3 linked regions of the Homo sapiens genome follow. The protein of the gene in region 2 interacts with the protein of the main gene of each other region in a pairwise test. Each region holds a gene or a part of one and is shown on either strand. Other genes may lie near its edges.

Evidence for each region. Proteins that work in one complex are often made in the same cells at the same time.
Region 1: the proteins of BRICD5 (region 2) and ICAM3 interact in binary tests that used the Homo sapiens proteins (3 or more experiments, as listed by UniProt).
Region 3: the proteins of BRICD5 (region 2) and KLRC1 interact in binary tests that used the Homo sapiens proteins (3 or more experiments, as listed by UniProt).

Annotation. Positions count from the first base shown.
Region 1 is NC_000019.10:10,336,100-10,344,342, reverse strand, and holds the start of ICAM3 (intercellular adhesion molecule 3 isoform 1 precursor), read left to right. Parts: upstream 1-4,718; 5' UTR 4,719-4,728; coding exon 4,729-4,804; intron 4,805-5,097; exon of another isoform or gene 5,098-5,394; coding exon 5,395-5,661; intron 5,662-8,243. UniProt on the Homo sapiens protein: ICAM proteins are ligands for the leukocyte adhesion protein LFA-1 (integrin alpha-L/beta-2). ICAM3 is also a ligand for integrin alpha-D/beta-2. In association with integrin alpha-L/beta-2, contributes to apoptotic neutrophil phagocytosis by macrophages.
Region 2 is NC_000016.10:2,208,753-2,216,423, forward strand, and holds BRICD5 (BRICHOS domain-containing protein 5), read right to left. Parts: upstream 2,112-7,671; 5' UTR 2,082-2,111; coding exon 2,031-2,081; exon of another isoform or gene 1,942-2,030; coding exon of another isoform or gene 1,899-1,941; coding exon 1,770-1,898; intron 1,530-1,769; coding exon 1,374-1,529; coding exon of another isoform or gene 1,300-1,373; coding exon 1,198-1,299; intron 955-1,197; coding exon 801-954; coding exon of another isoform or gene 705-800; coding exon 610-704; 3' UTR 501-609; downstream 1-500. Other genes in the region: MLST8 (target of rapamycin complex subunit LST8), read left to right, coding at 7-125; PGP (glycerol-3-phosphate phosphatase), read right to left, coding at 4,976-5,301, 5,386-6,025.
Region 3 is NC_000012.12:10,445,003-10,450,483, forward strand, and holds the end of KLRC1 (NKG2-A/NKG2-B type II integral membrane protein), read right to left. Parts: intron 4,966-5,481; coding exon 4,912-4,965; intron 4,387-4,911; coding exon 4,235-4,386; intron 2,631-4,234; coding exon 2,530-2,630; intron 1,661-2,529; coding exon 1,549-1,660; 3' UTR 1,026-1,548; downstream 1-1,025. UniProt on the Homo sapiens protein: Immune inhibitory receptor involved in self-nonself discrimination.

The DNA.
Region 1 (8,243 bases), on a different chromosome or scaffold from region 2:
GGTTGCAGTGAGCCAAGACTGAACCACCTCACTCCAGCCTGGGCAACAGAGTGAGAACCCATCTCAAAAAATACTGATAATAATAAGATCATCTTCAGAACTCAGTTCCTGGTGCATGAAGAGATTCAATACAGCCCCCTCACTCTCAGTTCTTAGAAAGAAGAATATGCCAGCCTGACCAACATGGTGAAACCCCCGTCTCTAATAAAAATACAAAAATTAGCTGGGTGTGGTGGCGCACGCCTGTGATCCCAGCTACTCAGGAGGCTGAGGCAGGAGAATCGCTTGAACCTGGGAGGTGGAGATTGCAGTGAGCCCAGCCTGGGAGACAGAGCAAGACTCATTCTCAAAAAAAAAAAAAGAAGAAGAATATGAAAGAGATAGGATCAATAACTACCTTCATTGTTTAATAGCCTAAGAGTGAAAGCCCAGCACAGTGGCTCACCCCTGTAATAATCCCAGCACTTTGGGAGGTTGAGTTGGGAGGATCACTTGAGCCCAGGGGTTCGAGAACAGCCTGGGCAATATGTCAAAAGCTCCTCTGTAGAAAAAATACAAAAATTAGCCGAGTGTAGTGGCACACACCTATAGTCCCAGCTACTAGGGAGGCTGAGGTGGGAGGATCACCTGAGCCTGGGAGGTCAAGGTTGCAGTGAGCCATGATTATGTCACTGCATTCCAGCCTGGGAGACAGAGCCAGACCCTGTCTCAGGAAGAAGAAGAAAAAAAAAAAAGCCAAATCTTTTTATCCCAGGATGTCTGAAAAGGACAGAGTCTATGGAGCATGGATGCAGAAAAGTAGTTATTCCTACCAGAAAAAAAAAAAATGAAATGTGGACACAGCCACTCAAGATCAGAGACTCAACCAGTGAAAGCAATTAGCTTCAATTTCATTGTCACCAGGAGGGCGCACACCAGAGAACCTGGGAGAAAGCCTGGGCTAGAGCCCTTAGCATTCTCAGTGTTACTGGTGCTGTGGTTCAACAACCTTTGTGGGAATGAGGAGAACCAGAGACCATCACCATCACACGTAAAAAGGATCCTATAGCAACAATGTGGCTGTCAAAAATCAGCTGGAGGCCAGGCGCGGTGGCTCACGCCTGTAATCCTAGCACTTTGGGAGGCCGAGGCGGGCGGATCACCTGAGGTCAGGAGTTTGAGACTAGCCTGGTCAACATGGTGAAACCCCGTCTCTACTAAAAATGCAAAAAATTAGCTGGGTGTGGTGGTGCATGCCTGTAATCCCAGCTACTTGGGAAGTTGAGGCGGGAGAATCACTTGAACCTGGGAGGCAGAGGTTGCAGTGAGCCCAGACTATGCCACTGCACTCCAGCCTGGGTGACAGACTGAGACCCTGTCTCAAAAAAAAAAAAAAAATCAGCTGGAGCTTAAATTATACATTGTTTGCAATCCAGACTGTACTTGCTTTCTTGTCAATGGCTTGAGATATGTGCAGAGGCCCCTTAAACATGTGTAGGTGACCTTTCTCTGTCGCCCAGGCTGGAGTGCAGGGGCACAATCTCAGCTAACTGCAACCTCCACTTCCCGGGCTCAAGCAATCCTCCCGCTGCAGCCTCCTGAGTAGCTGGGACTACAGGTGTGTGCCATCAAGCTTGGCTGATTTTTTTGTACTTTTTTTTTTTTTTTCGAGATGGAGTCTCGCTCTGTCGCCCAGGCTGGAGTGCAGTGGCGCAATCTCAGCTCACTGCAAGCTCTGCCTCCCGGGTTCACACTATTCTCCTGCCTCAGCCTCCCAAGTAGCTGGTACTACAGGCGCCCGCCACCATGCCCAGCTAATTTTTGTATTTTTTTTAGTAGAGACGGGGTTTCACCGTGTTAGCCAGGATGGTCTCGATCTCCTGACCTCGTGATCCGCCCGCCTCGGCCTCCCAAAGTGCTGGGATTACAGGCGTGAGCCACTGCACCTGGCCGATTTTTTGTATTTTTAGTAGAGACAGGGTTTTGGCATGCTGCCCAGGCTGGTCTGGAACTCCCGACCTCAAGGGATCCGCCTGTCTAGGCCTCCCAAAGTGTTAAGATTACAGGTGTGAGCCACCACGCCTGGCCCAGAAATACTCTTTTTTTTTTTTTTTGAGATGGAGTCTCACTCTGTTGCCCAGCCTGGATGGAGTGCAGTGGCGCGATCTCGGCTCACTGCAAGCTCCGCCTTCTGGGTTCACGCCATTCTCCTGCCTCAGCCTCCCGAGTAGCTGGGACTACAGGCACCTGCCACCATTTTTTTTTGTATTTTTAGTAGAGACGGGGCTAATTTTTTTTTGTATTTTTAGTAGAGATGGGGTTTCACCGTGTTAACCAGGATGGTCTCGATCTCCTTACCTCGTGATCTGCCCGCCTCAGCCTCCCAAAGTGCTAGGATTACAGGCGTGAGCTACCACACCTGGCCCAGAAATACTTCTTTATCAGAAATATTACTGGCGGGTGTAGCAGGGCACGCCTATAATCCCAGCACTTTGGGAGGTCGAGGCAGGCAGATCCCTTAAGCTTAGGAGTTCAAGACCAACCTGGGCAATATGGTGAAAGCCGTCTCTACAGAAAATTAGCCAGGCACAGTGGTGTGTACCTGTGGTCTCAGCTCCTAGGGAGGCTGAGGTGGGAGGATCACTTGAACCCAGGAGGCTGAGATTGCAGTTAGCTGAGATTGTGCCCCTGCACTCCAGCCTAGGCGACACGGTGAGACTCTGTTTCAAAAAACAAAAAAGAAATATGACTTATTTACAAATATTTCTTTCTTTTTTATTTTTAGAGACAGGGTCTCACTATTACGTAAGTATTATAAATTATATATATATGTTTGTTTGTTTGTTTGTTTTTCTGAGACAGAGTCTTGCTCTGTCACCCAGGCTGGAGTGCAGCGGCACAATCTCCACTCACTGCAACCTCCGCCTCTTGGGTTCAAGTGATTCTCCTGCCTCAGCCTCCTGAGTAACTGGGACTACAGGTGCCCGCCACAATGCCCAGCTAATTTTTTATATTTTTGGTGGAGATGGGGTTTCACTGTGTTAGCCAGGATGGTCTCGATTTCCTGACCTCGTCATCCACCTACCTCAGCCTCCCAAAGTGCTGCTAGGATTACAGACGTGAGCCAGTAAGTCCGACATCTTTTTTTTTTTTTTTTTTTTTTGTGGAAACAGGGTCTCACTGTGTCTCCCAGGCTGGAGTGCAGGGGCACAATCTCGACTCACTGCAGCTTTGACCTCCCAGGCTCAAGCGATCCTCTCACCTCAGCCTTCCAAGGAGCTGGGACTACAGGCACCAGGCCCATGCTACTGGTCCCTGCTGTTTACAAATACACTAGACTTGGGTTTTAGCTGCTCTCTCAACACCAGGTGGGAAATGGATTGTTCGGAAGGTAGAGGAATAGAGGAGGGACCTGCTTAGGAAGGTGGGGGTGCTCTAGATGAGAGAGGAGGTGCTGTGACCTCAAGGTCTGGGGAAAGTGGGTGAGTGCAGGGCCCCATCAAGGCTCTCAACAAGGCCTCTCTCTCTGGAGCTCAGATGTGAAGCCCAGAAGGCAGGTCAGAGGCCTGAGGTCAGAGGCAGGTCAAAGGTGGGGGTCCCACCTGGTCCCCTTGGCGCCTTCCCTTGGAATGCAGTGACCAGCTGCCTGGAAGGGTGGGCAAGGGGACAACAGGATGGGGTAAAGGCCAGTTACAAGTAGAATCCTGGAAGGCCGGGCGCAGTGGCTCACGCCTGTAATCCCAACACTTTGGGAGGCCAAGGCGGGCAGCTCACTTGAGGTCAGAAGTTTGAGACCAGCTTGGCCAACATGGTGAAACCCCGTCTCTACCAAAAAGTACAAAAATTAGCCGGGCGTGGTGGCACATGCCTGTAATCCCAGCTACTCGGGAGGCTGAGGCAGGAAAATCGTTTGAACCCGGGAGGCAGAGGCTGCAGTGAGCCGAGATCCCGCCACTGCACTCCAACCTGGGTGACAGAGTGAGACTCTGTCTCAAAACAAACAAACAAAAACCAAGTAGAATCCTGGATAGACAGTGGCTCAGGGACTCAGCTGTCCCCAAATCACCTACCTTAGCTCTTTGTGCAGGGGATGGGGGATCCCCAAGATCTTCAAAGATAGGGAGGTATCCTCAAGATCTTCAAAGGTGGCCAGGCGTGGTGGCTCACGCCTGTAATCGCAACACTTTGGGAGGTCAAGATGAGAGGAGGCCATCTTAAGGCCAGGAGTTCAAGACCAGTCGGGGCAACATAGCAAGACTCTGCTTCTGTTTCTGTTTTTGTTTTTGTTTTTTAATGTTTCCTCGAAATCCCACCTTAACATCTACACAATGGTGCCTACAGTTTTCCCCATTAACTTCCTCTCTGGGGACAGAATATTCCCCTACCCACCTAAGTTCAGCCAGAAGGAGATGCCTCATCCCCCCCACCCAGGCTTCCCAGTGCTGAGAACAAAAGAAACCAGTTTAGTTAGCATTTCCTGTGAATTCAAATGGGGGCCAGCAGTGCAACTGGGACCAGCCCATTCCCTGGGGGAGACTCAGCAGTGCTGGCCACTTTGCAGAGCCCCGTCTGGGTCCCCCACCCTGGCCCCCAAGGGCCACAGCATCCCCTTCCACCCACAGGCCTGGGCAAGGTGCAGTCCCCAGACTTCTGCAATCTTAACCGCTGTGCTTCCGTCGCAGTGGGAGGCCCCGCCTTTTCCCCTGCCTGCCCTTCGGGCACCTCAGGAAGGCACCTTCCTCTGTCAGAATGGCCACCATGGTACCATCCGTGTTGTGGCCCAGGGCCTGCTGGACTCTGCTGGTCTGCTGTCTGCTGACCCCAGGTGAGACCAGTCAAGCCGGGGAGGGCTGGAGAGGGCTGCGTTTTGGGGATCAGTAGAGGGTAGAGGAATAGAACGCAACGCTGTTCACATCCTGCCACACTGCGACCTGGCCGCTGACTCTGTATCCTCGGGAGAAAGTTCTGGTTCCTTAGTTCAGCCTTCAGGTGGTCAGGCCCCAGCATAGGCTTGTACGCCATCCCTCTCCCCTAACACACACACACACACCCCTCATGCTTCCTGCTCCATCTGAACTCCTGAAATTTGCCCTTTGCGTATGTGCTTCCCTCTGCCAGGATCACCTGTCCCTTTCACTTGCTAACTCCTACTTAGCCTTCAGTTTCGGGCTGCAATGGTCCCCGCTTCCAGGAAGCCTTCCCTGACTCACCTCCTCCTATGCTGGATCAGAGCCTCTTCTGGCCTCCTTCTGAGTTCTCCCCGGTCTCTGATGGATTCTACCTTTCCCACTGGACCATGAAGGCAGGAACCCTTCTGTCTCGGCACAAGGAGAGAGGTGTTAAATGGTGGGGCCTGTTGATGCGTGGGTTGGGGGACAAGGAAACAAACACCAGGACTTCTTCATGTTCCTGAAGGTGTCCAGGGGCAGGAGTTCCTTTTGCGGGTGGAGCCCCAGAACCCTGTGCTCTCTGCTGGAGGGTCCCTGTTTGTGAACTGCAGTACTGATTGTCCCAGCTCTGAGAAAATCGCCTTGGAGACGTCCCTATCAAAGGAGCTGGTGGCCAGTGGCATGGGCTGGGCAGCCTTCAATCTCAGCAACGTGACTGGCAACAGTCGGATCCTCTGCTCAGTGTACTGCAATGGCTCTCAGATAACAGGCTCCTCTAACATCACCGTGTACAGTGAGTCGACGTGTCCGGAGGTGGGACTGGTCTTGGGTAGTGGTGTGGGCAAGTGGCCAATGGCTCAGGAGAGTGGGGACCCTCAGTTTGCAAAGAATGGACCACAGTTCTGACCCAGAGCTCAGACCTGGACATTTGTGTGTGAGATACAAAGATAGACAGAGACAGAGACACAGAGACAGAGACAGAGATATAGAGACGCATCTCAATCTCATGCCAAGGCAGCAGTTGTGAAATCAATTAACTTGGGCCCCAACAAGCATTTTTTTTTTTTTTTTGAGACAGAGTTTCGCTCTTTTTGCCTAGGCTGGAGTGCAGTGGCACGATGTCGGCTCACTGCAACCTTCGCCTCCTGGGTTCAAGTGATTCTCCTGCCTCAGCCTCCCGAGTGGCTGAGATTACACATGCACGCCACCACACCCAGCAAATTTTGTATTTTTAGTTGAGATGGCATTTCACCATGTTGGCCAGTCTGGTCTTGAACTCCTGACCTCAGGCGATCCGCCCACCTCAGCCTCCCAAAGTGCTGGGATTACAGGCATGGGCCACTGCGCCCGGCCCCAACAAGCTTTTTTTTTTTTTTGAGATGGCGTCTCTTACTCTGTAGCCCAGGCTGGAGTGCAGTGGTGCAATCTCGGCTCACTGCGACCTCTGCCTCCCAGGTCCAGCTAATGCCCAGCTAAGTTTTGTATTTTTAGTAGAGACGGGGTGTTCCGCCCACATCAGCCTCTCAAAGTGCTGGGATTACAAGTGTGAGCCACTGCGCCTGGCCCCAACAATAATCCCAACACTTTGGGAGGCCAAGGCAGGAGGATTGCTTGAGTCCGGAAATTTAAGACCAGGCAGAGCAATATAGGGACACCCCGTCTCTACAAAAATAAATAAAAAATATTAGCTGGGCATGGTGGCACATGCCTGAAGTCCCAGCTACTTGGGGGACCAAGGTGGGAGAATCGCTTGAGCCCAGGAGTTCAAGGCTGTAGTGAGCTATAATTGCACCACTGCACTCCAGCCTGTGCAAAAAAGCAAGACCCTTGTCTCTTAAGCAAAAAAGGGGGTACCCCTTTCAGTCAGCAGTAGGCAAATGGAGGTTTTACATTTACACTTTTTTATACCTTTATTTTAGAGACAGGATCTCCCTATGTTGCCTAGGTTGGTCTCAAACTCCTGGGCTCAGGCAATCCTCCCACTTCAGTCTCTCCAGTAGCTGGGATTGCAGGCCTGGCTACTTTTTTTTTTCTTTTCTTTTCTTTTTTTTTTTTTTTGAGACAGAGTCTCACTCTGTCCCCCAGGCTAGAGTGCAGTGGCGCAATCTTGGCTCACTGCAACCTCTGCCTTCCGGGTTCAAGCGATTCTCCTGCCTCAGCCTCCTGAGTAGCTGGGATTACAGGCGCATGCCAACACGCCCAGCTAATTTTTGTATTTTTAGTAGGGACAGGATTTCACCATGTTGCCCAGGCTGGTCTCAAACTCCTGGCCTCAAATGATCTGCCCGCCTTGGCCTCCCAAAGTGCTGGGATTATAAGCGTGAGCCACCATGCCTGGCCTACTTTTTGACTTTTCTTTTCTTTGAGACGCAGTCTTGCTATTGTCCCCCATGCTGGAGTACAATGGCGCGATGTCAGCTCATTGCAACCTCCGCCTCCTGGGTTCAAGTGATTCTCCTGTCTTAGCCTCCTTAGTAGCTGGGATTACAGGCGTGTGACACCATGCCCGGCTAATTTTTGTATTTTTAGTAGAGACAGGGTTTTGCCATATGGGCCAGGTTGGTCTCAAACTCCTGACCTCAAGTGATCCGCCTCCCTCGGCCTCCCAAAGTGGTGGGATTACAGGCATGAGTCACCTTGCCCAGCCTTTTTTTTTTTTTTTTTTTTTTTGACATAGAGTCTCTCTCTGTCGCCAGGCTGGAGTGCAGTGGCACTATCTCAGCTCACTGCAAATTTTGCCTCCTGGGTTCAAGCGATTCTTGTGCCTCAGCCTCCTGAGTAGCTGGGATTACAGGCACGTGCTACCATGCCTGGCTAATTTTTGTATTTTTAGTAGAGATGGGGTTTCACCATGTTGGCAAGGCTGGTCTTGAACTCCTGGTCTCAGGTGATCCGTCCACCTTGGCCTCCCAAAGTGCTGGGATTACAGGCATGAGCCACAGTGCCCGGCCTGAGGCCCAGCGTTTTGTAGGTGTACTGGGGAGGGCACCCAGCCTGGGAGTGTCAAGTCTCCTGTGACTGTGCCGGAGTATCTTGAGAGGCTGCCACAGGGCTGGTGAACCAGGAAAGCCCTGAGTGTCTGAACCTGATTGGAGAGAACTGAATAATCCTGACCTTTTGATCCACCCACCCCGGCCTCCCAAAGCTCTGGGATTACAGGCGTGAGCCACCACGTCTGGCCATAAACAGGAATTTTTAATATTCATATCATAGTCATAAACGTTCATCCCTTCCATCCTCATTTTTTTTTATTGTGCCATCTTTGAGAACAGAAAGTTTTGTTTAGCGCCTTGCAAGGTATCTGACAACACAGGAAATGATAATCACTGCGCTAATGATAATAGCAAACGCTTCGACTGGCCCAGCTCTAAGCCC
Region 2 (7,671 bases):
CTCCAGCTTCCTCGGACAACCTGGCCCGGCTCTGGTGTGTGGAGACTGGAGAGATCAAGAGAGAGTATGGCGGCCACCAGAAGGCTGTTGTCTGCCTGGCCTTCAATGACAGTGTGCTGGGCTAGCCTGTGACCCCTCGGGACTGCCTGGTGCAGGTGGTGGCAGCTGGAGGGACCCATGCAGCACCCAGGTCAGAGCAGACCCTCCCCTGCCGGCCTGCGCCAGCTGGACCTGATGGCCCCCTGTGGCGCCTTGACCTGCTGGGCCAGGCTGCCCTGGGACTCTCAGCCCCCAGTTGCTTATCCAGATGTGACAGAGCTCGACCCAAGCCAGGCTGCACACTCCTGGACTGGGCTAGCCTGCACTGCCTGGGAAAGTCGGCCGAGGGCCCAAAGCTGCTGAGGGGTCTGAGGCTGGTGCCCACCCCCAAGCTAGTGTGTTCTCTGCCCCTCCCTGCCCGCGTTTCAGGGCCTCGGTCCATAGAGAACACCACCACCATGGCCAGGTGGAAGGGTTTATTAGTCCCTGCCAGCAGCTGTCCTCCCTGGTGCAGGTGGCCTGGCCAGCCCACTGGATTGGGGACGGGCCAGGCTGGGCCAGGTCGGGGGCTCAGTCTGGGAGGTAATAAAAGCAGACCGACACGCAGATGTTGCTCGGGAAGCAGATGTCGATGCAGAGATAAATCAGCCGCTGTCTCCGGGGCCCTGTGGCGAGGGTGCCGTGAATCTCCAAGGGCTCCGCCCCCAGCTCCTCAAACCATCCCGAGGGCCTGGCCTTCCCCCACAGCGGTCCTGACTCACCCTCTGCTCGCCGGGCCCAGTAGATGGGGGTCCTCATGCACAGGCGCTGCACCAAAGCCCCCGCCTGGGCGGGGTCCACTTCGAGGCTCCCCTGCACTGCCAGCAGCTCCTGGGTGTGGTGGGTGTCCTGGCTGGGGACCCAAGCCTCTTGGACCTGTTGAGAAGGCTCTGGTGGGCGGTGGGACAGGGCTGCTCCCTGCTCCTGGCTTGGCAGGGCCGGGTACCCTCCAACCCCCAGTGATGTCCCCACCCTCAGCTCTTGTCAGCAGCCTGGGCTTAGGGCGGAGAGAGCTTCCTGTTCCCTGAAACCACAGCTCCAGCCTGTCCCGTACTGGGCTGCACACAGGACCCTTTGTCTAGCCCCTGGCCCGGGCCTGCGCCCAGCAGGACGGCTCACCTTGGAGGTATCCACCAGCAGCCGCAGGGTCTCCCGATCACTGTCCTCCATCAGGCGGAGGAAGCAGACCTGGTGCTCCTCAGGGCGGTAACAGATGCAGCCCTGGGGAGGCAGGGGGGTGAGGCGGGGCCCCCCAGACCGACACCTGCCAGGGTGACCCCTCCCTGCCCACTCACGCTCTGCCCGTCGAACAGCACCGCCCAGCTGTGGTTGCTCTGAGGTGGGGTCACTGTGATGGTCGCCGCGTTCCGGGCCACGTCCACCAGGATGGTTTGGTTGGGCCGGGGCATGTGGGGGCTCGGGAGGGTCATTCGCAGCGTCTGCAGCCTTGGCTGGCAGTGGGAGTTGGAGTTCAGCCGGGCAGCTGTGCAACCCCAGCACAGCCTCCAGCTCTGGGCTGCAGGACTCCTGACACCCCTGAGTGGGCCCTTCCACCCCTTGGTCCTCTGGCTGTCTGCTCCTAGGTGGTGTCACTGCCTGCTCCGCACCCTTGCTCTGCTGGAGGCTGGGATATGCCAGCTTCCCTTCTCCCTTTCCACTGTCCATGTCCCTGGTGCTGAGGAGGGGCTCACCTTGGGAGGGCCCTGAGCAGAGCCAAGAAGCCCTCCAGCCACAACCCCCACAGCGGCCAGCACCAGCAGCAGCAGCAGCAGGAGCAGGCTCACGGCTCTCCAGCCCCCGCAGGAGGGCTTGGTCTTCACCTGGGCGTGCATCAGGGTCAGAAGGGTCATGAGGGTTAGACATCAGGGAGCAAGTGGGCTGGGGAAGGGAGGGGCTGGGTGGCCTGGGGCACCCCCTGGGTCCTTGCTGCAGGAGTAACGGGAGGCACTCACCCCTGTAGGCCCAGGTTTGGGGCGCTCAGCACAGCAGCTTGCTGGTTCCATCCTGCAGCCCCTGCTCACAATGTGCCGATTGTCTGCGTCCCTTGTCTGCAGCCTTGGCCAGGGGAAACTCAGAACAGAACCCCTCCCCTCCTGACCCTGCGCCTCCCCCTCAGCTCTGGATCTGATATCCAGGTCAGAGCCAGGACAGCCCCTCCTCCCACCTGGGGGATGCCTGTCACCAGGCCCGGCTCCAGACACCTGGCCTGTGCAGACTGGAGCTCAGGGTCTGGGAGGCGTAGGGCTCGGCCGCGTGGAAATCCAGTCCGGCTGACCGACTGGAGGGCAGCCCAGGCCCGGCCAGGGTGACTCGCTAAGTGTGGTTGGGGTGGATTTCGTTTTCCTAAAGTGGCCTGAGTCTGTCAGGTTATCCTTGACTCCCAGAGTTGGGCACAGGGCCTGACACGCCACAAGCTGTCAATACGTGCCTGTTCAGTGAATGACAGGTGTGGGACTGTGCACCCCCAGCCACTTCCCAGCCCCCGCACACCCAAGACCGGGGGTTCCTGAAGCCTGGACCACAGACAGGCAGCCTGCTGGAGCCTGTGCCCCTGGGACAGTCAGGCCAGCCTCGGGGGCCCGCCTAGCCCAACTTTTTTTTTTTTGAGACGGAGTCTCGCTGTGTCCCCCAGGCTGGAGTGCAGTGGCGTGATCTCAGCTCACTGCAACCTCTGCCTCCCGGGTTCACACAATTCTCATGCCTCAGCCTCCCTAGTAGCTGGGATTACAGATACATGCCACCAAGTCCCGCTAATTTTTGTATTTTTAGTAGAGATGGGTTTTCACCATTTTGGCCAGGCTGGTCTTGAACTCCTGATCTCAAGTAATCCACCTGCCTCAGCCTTCCAAAGCGTTGGGATTACGGGTGTGAGCCACTGCGCCCGGGCCAGCATTACTTCTGAGCTCTGCTCCCTGCCCTGGGCGCTCTGACACGGCAGCCCACCAGCTTCACTCCAGGGCCCTTTGCTTCCCTGGCTTCCCTTTGTGCCTGGCTTTCCCTCATTCTTCAAAACATCTTCCTCTGAACCAGGCTGGGAGTGGGCAGTTGGCATTCCAGCTCTGGAGTTGGAACCCCAGTTACCCATCTACTTTGAGTCCTCCCACCCGTGGTGAGACGGCATCACCCGGGCCAATGCAAGGTGAGAGCAAGGACACCTGAGCCAGTGTGGGTTTGAGAGTTTAATCTGTGCTCTGGCGCCCACAGTGCTGCAGCCCCTCATGGGCCAGAGACAGGATGCACGGGGACTCCCAGCCCCTACCCGGCAAGAGAGGCATCACTGAGGCTGCATCTGCCATGCGCTCCTGGTGTGACTGCACCCTGTCAGGCCAGACCCGGCTTGAGCCAACTTAGCCAAGCCAGCGTCAGTGTCACCAGCCTCATGGGTGGAGCCACCCTCATGCTGCTCTGCAGCACCCTCTGAACCCGATATCCCAGGCCTGGGAGGTGCTGAAGGCTCAGGACGCCTCTTATTGCTCTGAAGTCTTTGTGACCAAGTGGAGTGCTGTGACTGTGGGGCCAAGAGAGAAGCTGCCAGGTACAGGGAAAGGCGCTGGTAGGGAGCCAGCCAGAAGGTGCAGCATCCCGGGATGGCCCTGCTGAGTCTGCTGTCAGGCCTGTGAAAGGTCAGCAGAGCCAAGGAGCAGGCAGGAGAGGCTGGAGCCCCGCCCAGAACCTTGGCGAGCTGGTGGCCCTGCCAAGTCCTGCTGGCCACTGAAGAGGGAATCCAGGGCAAGGCAGGTGACCTCCTGGGCCACCAGTCTCTAACCCCTACCCCAGCCTAGGGAAGGGGAGGACAGGAAGAGACTGGATGCTTTGTAAAGGACTTCCTGTTCTTGGGGACATAACTCTCGTCCCCTCCCAGAGCCCTGGATGACTGACAGGCATTCCTTGGCCAACACATGCTTGAGCCGCGCTGCTGGCTGCAGGGCACCTGGATGACAGGCATTCCTTGGCCAACACATGCTTCAGCCGCGCTGCCGGCTGCAGGGCACAGAGGCTCCTTCAGTGGAATTTTGCCTACGACACAGAGCACAGCTATTAATACACTTAAAATTCAAATCCATTGCCTGACACAGTTGTTCAAAGTTAAAAACTGGTAGCAGCACTGCTCTGAGCTCCCTGCACTGCAGCCCGGAGTTCAGTGAAGGCGTCCACGCCATGGTAGCTGCTCCGTCCAAATCACCTGGGTATAAATGCACACTTGAGACAGCAGAGCTTTAGCTGGGCTGCGTTTACAGAACTGGGCAGCAGCCCTGGGTATCTGAAACGGAACAGACACTCAGTTGTGACATCAGAGTGGTTTTCAAGGAAGTAAGGGAGGTGGGAGAGTGGTGAGGGCAGCACTTTGCACCCAAGGGCAGGGAGATGCCACCTGGGAGCAGCCGCCTCCTCCACTCCCACCCTGCTGGGAGGCACAGGGACACAGAAGGCTCCGCTGGACTTTCAGTCATACTGATGGGGCTCTGGTCCATGCAAGCCTCTCCCAACAGTCAGAATAATCAGTCCCTCTGCCCCCTGAGGGGCTGGATCCCTGAATGAGTTTTTCAATAAAATACAGGACACACACCCCTAGACCCGCCTCAGTCCCATCGGCAGGCCCTGGTTACCTGAATCCCGGACAGGTGCAGAGCCTGCCCCTGCCAACCCCACCCAAGGCCCAGAACCCAGCCCACAACGCCTTCCAAGCCTAAAAGTGCATCTTCGATTACAAGCATCTGTAAACAAAATCGTCCCCCAAACGTGTACTTACAAGGTTAACAATGAATGCCTTTGCTTAACTCCAATTACACTCTTTGAAGCCACTTAGCCGAGCAGATGCTTAAGCCCCACCTATTAATTTGGGTAACTGGTTTTCAATTTCTTTTTTTTTATTCTGCAGATTAAAGACACTCAATCTTTAACCTTGAAGGGCAGGCAAAAGGTCGGCTATGCTGTCAACATAGAAGTCAGGGACCATTTTCTTCTTAGACACGCAGTCACTTTCCTGATTATTCTTCACATCCCCTAGAGTGGAGACTCCGGTGAGGGTCAGGATGGTCTTCAGGCCACAGGTGGCGCCTAGGAGGATGTCTGTGTCCAGGCGGTCTCCCACCATGACGGTGCGCTCGGGGTTGATGCCGTATTCCTGGGACACGCAGTCGAAAATGAAGCGGCTGGGCTTCCCGATGATGTCGGCCTGGCGCTGGGCGGCCATCTCCACGGCTCGGACCAGACACCCGGTACCTGCGGGGCACAGGGGACCGGGTCAAAGGGCAGGGAGGGGGCCCGCCGCCCGCCCCCCAGCCTCCCGCCCCAGGGCGCACGGACCCGCGATGAAGCGGCCGTTCTCAAGCGGAAGCCGGTTGTCCATGTTGGTGCCCACGAGCAGGCAGCCGGGCTGCTGCAGGTAGCGCAGGGCCTTGGTGAGCTTCATGTAGCTGAAGTGCGGGTCAAAGCCCACCACCACCGCGCGCACGTCGGGCTCCAGCGGCGCGTGCAGCCAGTCGCCGGGACCCTCGCCCTGCAGTGGCTCGGGCCCCACGCCCACGCTGGCGACGCCCACGGCCTCCAGCTCCGCGGCCAGGGCTGGGCTGCCCAGCACGTAGGCCTTGGGCGCGGGGGCGCCGGCCAGGCGCTGGCGCAGGTAGAGCGCGGTGCAGTAGGCCGTGCCGAAGACCTCCAGGCTGGCGCCGGGCCCCGCGGGGCCGCCGAAGCCCAGGCGCCGCAGCTTCTCGGCGTAGGCAGCGCGGGTCTTGCTGCTGTTGTTGGTGATGAAGCCCAGGCGCTTGCCGCGGGCTCGCAGCGCCCGCAGGGCCTCGGGCGCGCCAGGCACGGCGGTCTCCCCGCGCCACAGCACGCCGTCGCAGTCGAACAGCAGCGTGTCCACGTCGGCCAGCAGCGCCTGTGCCCGCTCGGCGCTCAGCCGCACGCAGCGGGCGTCGTCGCCACCGGCCTCCGCCGCCGCCATCGCCGCCCGCCGGCCGCCGCCGCCCGCCGGCCGCTCCTCGCAGCCGCCCGCCGCGGCGCCCTCCCCGCCCCCGGGGCGCTCATTGGCCCAGCGCCTCGCGCCCGCCGCCCATTGGCCTGCACCTTCGCCAATCCGCCCCCGCCTCCCGCGGGCTGCGGGAGCTCAGCGCCAATCGGTGAGGCCCGGCGCGGGGAGAGGGGCGATCATTGGCTACCGGCCTTGGGACGCCCCGGTGATTGGCTGGCAGGGCTCCAACCGGCATTCGGAGTGAAGCGCTCGCTGCGGAAATGCGCCAGAGGGGAGAGCAGCGCAGGCGCAAGGCCGCTGTTCCCGGGCTGCCGCGGGCCGCTCACCCATTGGAAGCGAGTGGTCAGCCTAGGTGACGAGGCCCTTCACGGAGTGACCCGGGCCAGGCCGGCTGTCCATTGGCCGGTCTCTCCCGCGGGCATGGGCGGGGCTCTCGCAGGAGCGCCGCGGGAGGGGGCCGGGGCACCTTCGTCGGCCGTGCCCGTGCCTCTGTGCCGTGGACGCGCTCGGGACACGGGGCCACCACGTGGGTCGCTTACCGGCCAGTCCCGCGAGCCAGCCCGGGGCTCCTTCCCCGGCAGGCGTGAGTACGCGCCTCAGTCCTTTGCAAAAACGCGTTCCCGGTTCCTTGGAGGTAACACGAACCAGCCATTACCAGGCTGGGGGATTAGGGTCTAAGGACACTGTCTAGAACCTGGTACTCAGTGATTGCTCGCCGTCATCGTCATCAATTATTAGGTATTTAATTGAGGCAAAACATTACAGTAAAGGGCATGAAAACCGTGCAGCTCGATGGAAGTTTTACATTTATTATTATTTTATTTACTTATTTATTTACTTTTTGAGACGGAGTCTCGCTCTGTCGCCCAGGCTGGAGTGCGGTGGCGCCATCTCGGCTCACTGCAAGCTCCGCCTCCCGGGTTCACGCCATTCTCCTGCCTCAGCCTCCCGAGTAGCTGGGACTACAGGCGCATGGCACCACGCCCGGCTAATTTTTTGTATTTTTAGTAGAGACGGGGTTTCTCCGTGTTAGCCAGGATGGTCTCGATCTCCTGACCTCGTGATCCGCCCGCCTCGGCCTCCCAAAGTGCTTGGATTACAGGCGTGAGCCACCGCGCCCGGCCTTTTATTTTTTTAATTATTATTTTTTGAGACGGAGTCTCTTGCTCTGTTGCCCAGGCTGGAGTGCAGTGGCGCGATCTCGGCTCACTGCAAGCTCCGCCTCCCGGGTTCACGCCATTCTTCTGCCTCAGCCTCCTGAGTAGCTGGGACTACAGGCGCCGGCCACCACGCCTGGCTAATTTTTTTGTATTTTTTAGTAGAGACGGGGTTTCACCGTGTTAGCCAGGATGGTCTTGATCTCTTGATCTCGTGATCCGCCCACCTTGGTCTCCCAAAGTGCTGGGATTACAGGCGTGAGCCATGGCGCCCGGCCGGAAGTTTTACATTTTTACATGTATATATATATTTTGCGACAGGGTCTTGCTCTGTCCCCCAGGCTGGAGTGGAGTGGCTAGATCACAGCTCACTGTAGCCTTATCACAGCTCACTGTATCCTTGACCTCCTAGGCTCATGTGATGCTCCTACCTAAGCCTCCAAAGTATTTGGGACCAGAGGT
Region 3 (5,481 bases), on a different chromosome or scaffold from region 2:
TCCGACCCCTGGTTTGAAGTGATTCTCCTGCCTCAGCCTCTCGAGTAGCTGGGACTATAGGTGCACACCACCACACCCAGCTAGTTTTTGTATTTTTAGTACAGATGGGGTTTCAGCACGTTGGCTAGGATGGTCTCAATCTCTTGACCTCCTGATCCACCGGCCTCAGTCTCCCAAAGTGCTGGGATTACAGACATCAGCCACCACACCCGGCCAGCACTGATATTTTATGAGGGAAATATACAATGATCACCATGGATTTATTTCAGAAACAAAGGCTGGTTTAACATTTGAAAAAATAAAAGTAGTTTATAAAATGTTATATAAATACAACATATATCATTCCAACTGCTACAAATTAATAAAAATGTTACAATTGATAAAATCTATTAGAAAATAGGAATATTATAAAACTGCTTCGATATGAGAAAGATAGGATGAAAACAACACCAAGCTTTGTAAATATGAATAATATGTTTAAGTATTTTTTGCCAAAATCAGAAAACGATACATATGATACACACAGAACTTTGATTGTACCTTCTATTCAACTATGGGTATAAAACCCTAGCCAGTGAAAATAAATGAAAATAAAACTACGTTATAGCATATAGATTAAAAAAATAAAAGTGTGATCATGTGCAGATAAAATTGCTCGTTATATAGAACACCCAGAAATAAATCAATAGTTGACATAATAGATTTACATATATAAAATCAGTGGAATAAGTAGATATAAAATCAAAATGCAGACATCAGTTGTATTTCTATTTATAACAACAAAAATTACTAAAGGGAATTTTAGAATCAGGATGCCATTTACAAAAGCATAAATGTAAAATACCTACATTTCTGTATGACTTCAATCCCCCAAAATACAAAATACAATAGAGAGAAATTAAAGATAACACAGTACATTGAAGGAAACACTTTATATTGATTAGAAAAGTCAATATTATAAAGAAGCTAATCTTTAAAAATTACTTTAGAGAATAAATGCAGTCACAAATAATCCCAGGAGAGGCTTTTTTTTTTTTTCTGGATAGCTTTATTGAAGTGTCGTGTACAAAGCATACATTTCATGCACTTAAAATGATTAAAAATCAATGATGTTTAGTATATTCGCAGAGTTACAACCATCACCACTACTGAAATTTAGAAAGTTTTCATCACGACACAAAGTAACGTTCTATCAGTTAGAGGTCATCTCCTATTTCAACCTCCCTCAGACATTGGCAACCACTATTCTACTTTCTGTCTCCATGGGTTTGACTGTTCTTGGTACTTCCTATAAGCTGACTCACATAACATGCAACTTTTAGAAAGGCTGAAAACCACAAATACCATGTTGAGCAAAATGAGCCCGACACAAATGCTAGGATGTCTGTACTTTAGTAATTGTGTGTATCCTGTTTCAATAATTGATTTAGAATTTTCTTATTAGAGCAAATAACATAATTCATTTTAAGATTTATGCAATCATAATATATTTCTATTTTAAGAAATATACAATTTATCTGATGCACTGCAAATGCAAACGCTTTACCTCTAAAGCTTATGCTTACAATGATATATTATTGAAGATCCACACTGGGCTGATTTAAGTCGATTTACTTGTAGCACTGCACAGTTAAGTTCAGCATTATCTGAGTCTTTTATCCTGTAATGGAGAAAAATCCATATTCTGTTACATTTTAAGCAAATGATTCATGAGACGAAAGCATTTTCCATGTACTGTAAGAAAATAATTTCATGGAAAAGGGTAATTAAATTTTTCATAATATTAGTAAGAGTCATTATTCTGAACACTCAACAGAGTAGTCCCCCTTCATCCACGAGGGATATGTTTCAAGATTCCAGTGGATGCCTGAAACGGCAGATAGTGCAGAACCTATAGAGAGATTATGTTTTCTCTACACATTCATAACTGTGATAAAATTTAATTTATAAATTAGGCACAATAAGAGATTGACAACAATAACTACTAATAACAAAATTATAGCAATATGCCAACAGCACTACTCTTGTGCTTTGAGGATATTCTTAAGAAAAAAAGTAAGTGTGGCTTTTTAATAAAAACAAGCACTGCAATTCCCTGATAGTCCAGCTCGAGCTTGTCCAACTCGCTGCCCACGGGCCGCATGTGACCCAGGACAGCTTCAAATGCGGCCCAATACATATACGTAAACTTTCTTAAAACATTCTGTGATTTTTTTTTTCTTTTTTTTGCTCGTCAGCTATCGTTAGTGTTAGTGTATTTTATGTGTGGCCCAAGACTCTTCTTCTTCCAATGTGGCCCACAGAAGCCAAAGATTGGACACCTGATAATCAAGAAGGTTACTAGCTGACCAATGAGCGGTTGAAATATATGGACTACTATGGTCTATTGTAAAATATTTATGTCAGCATTTCACTAACTTTCCACATCTTTCTTCATCTCTATGATTCCACATAGATTTATTCATATTATTCTTCTGAATTTATCCTTTATATATATATTGTTATATAGCGCCATACAAAACAACTTACTCATGTTTGAAAGCCAAACCATTCATTGTCACCCATGGATGATGACTGCTGTTACGAAACACACCAATCCATGAGGATGGTGAAATGATGGACAGAAATTTCTAAAAGAAAAGAAAGAATTTTCACTTAAATAATAATTATGAAAACATTACAAAAACAATATATTAAATTTGAAAACCACTATTTGCAGTGCCAAAAACTTTCATAAATGTTTATAATTTTGATATAAATGAACCCGTCAATGTTTATACTTAGTACTTTTATTCTTCTCATGTTAATAAAGAAGTTTTAATTCTTGCATTATAATAGTTACCCCAATTGACTGAATAAACACAGTAAGGATTTAAATAAGTCTCCTGATACTGTGCATTCATTCCTCCAGATACTGTGACTAAATCAAACTATTTTTGTGCTATATTTCTCAGAGTTGGAGATTTAGAAGAGAAATTAGAGGTTGTGATTCAGAAATAAATGACATGGAAGCTACATATTGGGTTTTCTGGGTACCACACCATTCTTTAACTAGATAAGCCCTCACTTTTTTATCTGATTTGGTTTTGGTGGAATAACAGTGATCCTGACCAGGTGGTGTAGACTCGTCTCTCTCTGCTACTCCCTACTAAAAACAACTATAAACTCTGGGATTAATGAAAGACAAAAGCAATGGAGAACTCTGAAAGGTGGAAAGAGAAAGATGAAATTGTCTGGGACCCTAGCATCAGGGATCAACCAAGTGTCCGAGCGAGCATGTTAAGTCCTCCACACGACAGAAGAAGGTGACCTAGGCCTGCTGTTTCCCTACACCCAACCTGGCAATAGGAGGAGGCCCAGCAAAGCTCACTCCTGTTCTGTATTGAAGGGGAGTCCCCTCCGCAACAACAGGCAAGGCTGGTACCACTGGCAAGGATGATCTACCAGGAGACTTGCTACCAATACAGCCAGAGGAAGTACTTCCTTCTCATACCAAGAGACACCAGAGTGGATGTGGGTGAGGAGGATCAGCAAAGGAACCCAATGACTACCAGTGCACCACCCAGGGTCCTCTTTGTCCCTGAGGGCATGAGACTCACTTCCCCATCCAGAGACACAGGATTGAATGGATTCTTAGTGTTCTTTGTACATACTACAGCAGTGAACAGTAATAAACGACAGATAACCGCAATAATATGGAGGAATTGCATAAATATCAGATAGGAGTGAAAAACACAGACATGAAATTCACAGTGTATGATTCCCTTTATATAAATTCAAAAGCAGGTAAACGTTATTTATAACATTAAAAGTCAAGACAGTGTTTTGGAGAGGAGTCAGGATAAGTGATGAGGGCATACACAGGGGTGGAACTACTAGAGCTGGAAACTTTTATTTCATGATCTGACTTGTATCACAGGAGTTCATTCACTTTGTGATCAATCTGCATGACCAGATCACATCATGCCCGATAAAATTAGATAGCAAAATGTATTGTGGATTGAAAGCATTTCTAGAAGCATGGTTTTCCATGAAAAGCAAAAACTGAAAATAATCAAAAGTACATTAGCAGTATATGAATTTTAAAACATTATTAAGTCAATCAATTAAATACTACATAAACTTGAAAACATATAAGCTAAATGTATATACCCACACATATGGATGATTTCTACAAATATATTATCGACCGAAAGAAGCTTTTCATAAAGTGTTTAAAACATTTACATCTTACCATTTCTTCTTCATTATCTATAGAAAGCAGACTGGAGTTCTTCGAAGTACAGGCCAGCAAACTCTCTTCCCAAGTTCTTCTTTCCTTACCAATGTAGTAACAACTGTTGGAATATGTAATCCACTCCTCAGGACAATGGCCACAATGACGTGCTAAATAAAGATATGAATTACTATCTAGACCAATATGAATTTTTAAAAATGAAAATTAGTTCACATATTTGCAAACATATAAACCTATACGTATGCAACATATCTATACATCTTCATGGGCTGGTAAATATATAGTGTCAAAATACCCAGTCACTTATACACACATGCGCAATAAAGGGTCAGCCTTTCATCTCCTAATTGTGTTCCCATATAAAGCAAACCAGCAAACAAAAATCCACTCTATACATGTCTTGAAAAATCAATGAACTAATCTGATTTTTAAGGAACAATAAATAACTTGTATCTTATCATATTATAGCAGTAAGAATTTGAACACAACAGATAAAAAGAAAGCATAGTGATTTTACTTATAGTTGATGACAAGTGAATGCCTTACTCTAATTTTATTTATGAACACTTATTGCCAAATTTTATAATTTTTCACCCAAAATTTTATTTTTGTACAGCCTAAGATCAAGAAAAAATAAACTGTACAATATTAAAACTTTAAAAATTATTATATACCTTTCTGAGTTCTTGTATTCAGGGAAGAATTGTTGTGCCTCTGTATTAATGTAGCTAGAAAAATTAAAGTAATCTTTGTAAAAAAATTAGCATCTAAATCAATCATAATAATTTTAAGTTTTTGTTTGAATTTTTTTGTATTATTTAGAGTTAGAATAATATGGAATAAAATTGATTTTAAGAAAAATTTGATAAAGTAATGGTGGTTTTTTGGAAAAGTATTTCATAGATCTAAAGAACCAAATTTCACCATCTCATATAGTTCTTATAATTCTTGATTTAACTACTTTCAAAAATTAATTTCTATTTCTCAGTAAGGTTTTTCAGACTCCTAGAACATATTTTTGAGTTATGAAATCCAAATATATACATACGATTGCATCAGAAGCGAATACTTTCAACAATTATTCTTTCATTTATTCTTTGACAAATTCAGAATAATCATTCCACATTTAGTCCAAATATATACATTACAATGAGAACTCTATTCCCTGAAAATATGAAATGTTTAGAGGCACATTCAATCATTAACGTGAAAATTCCCCTTGTAATCTTCGAAAATAGACTTAC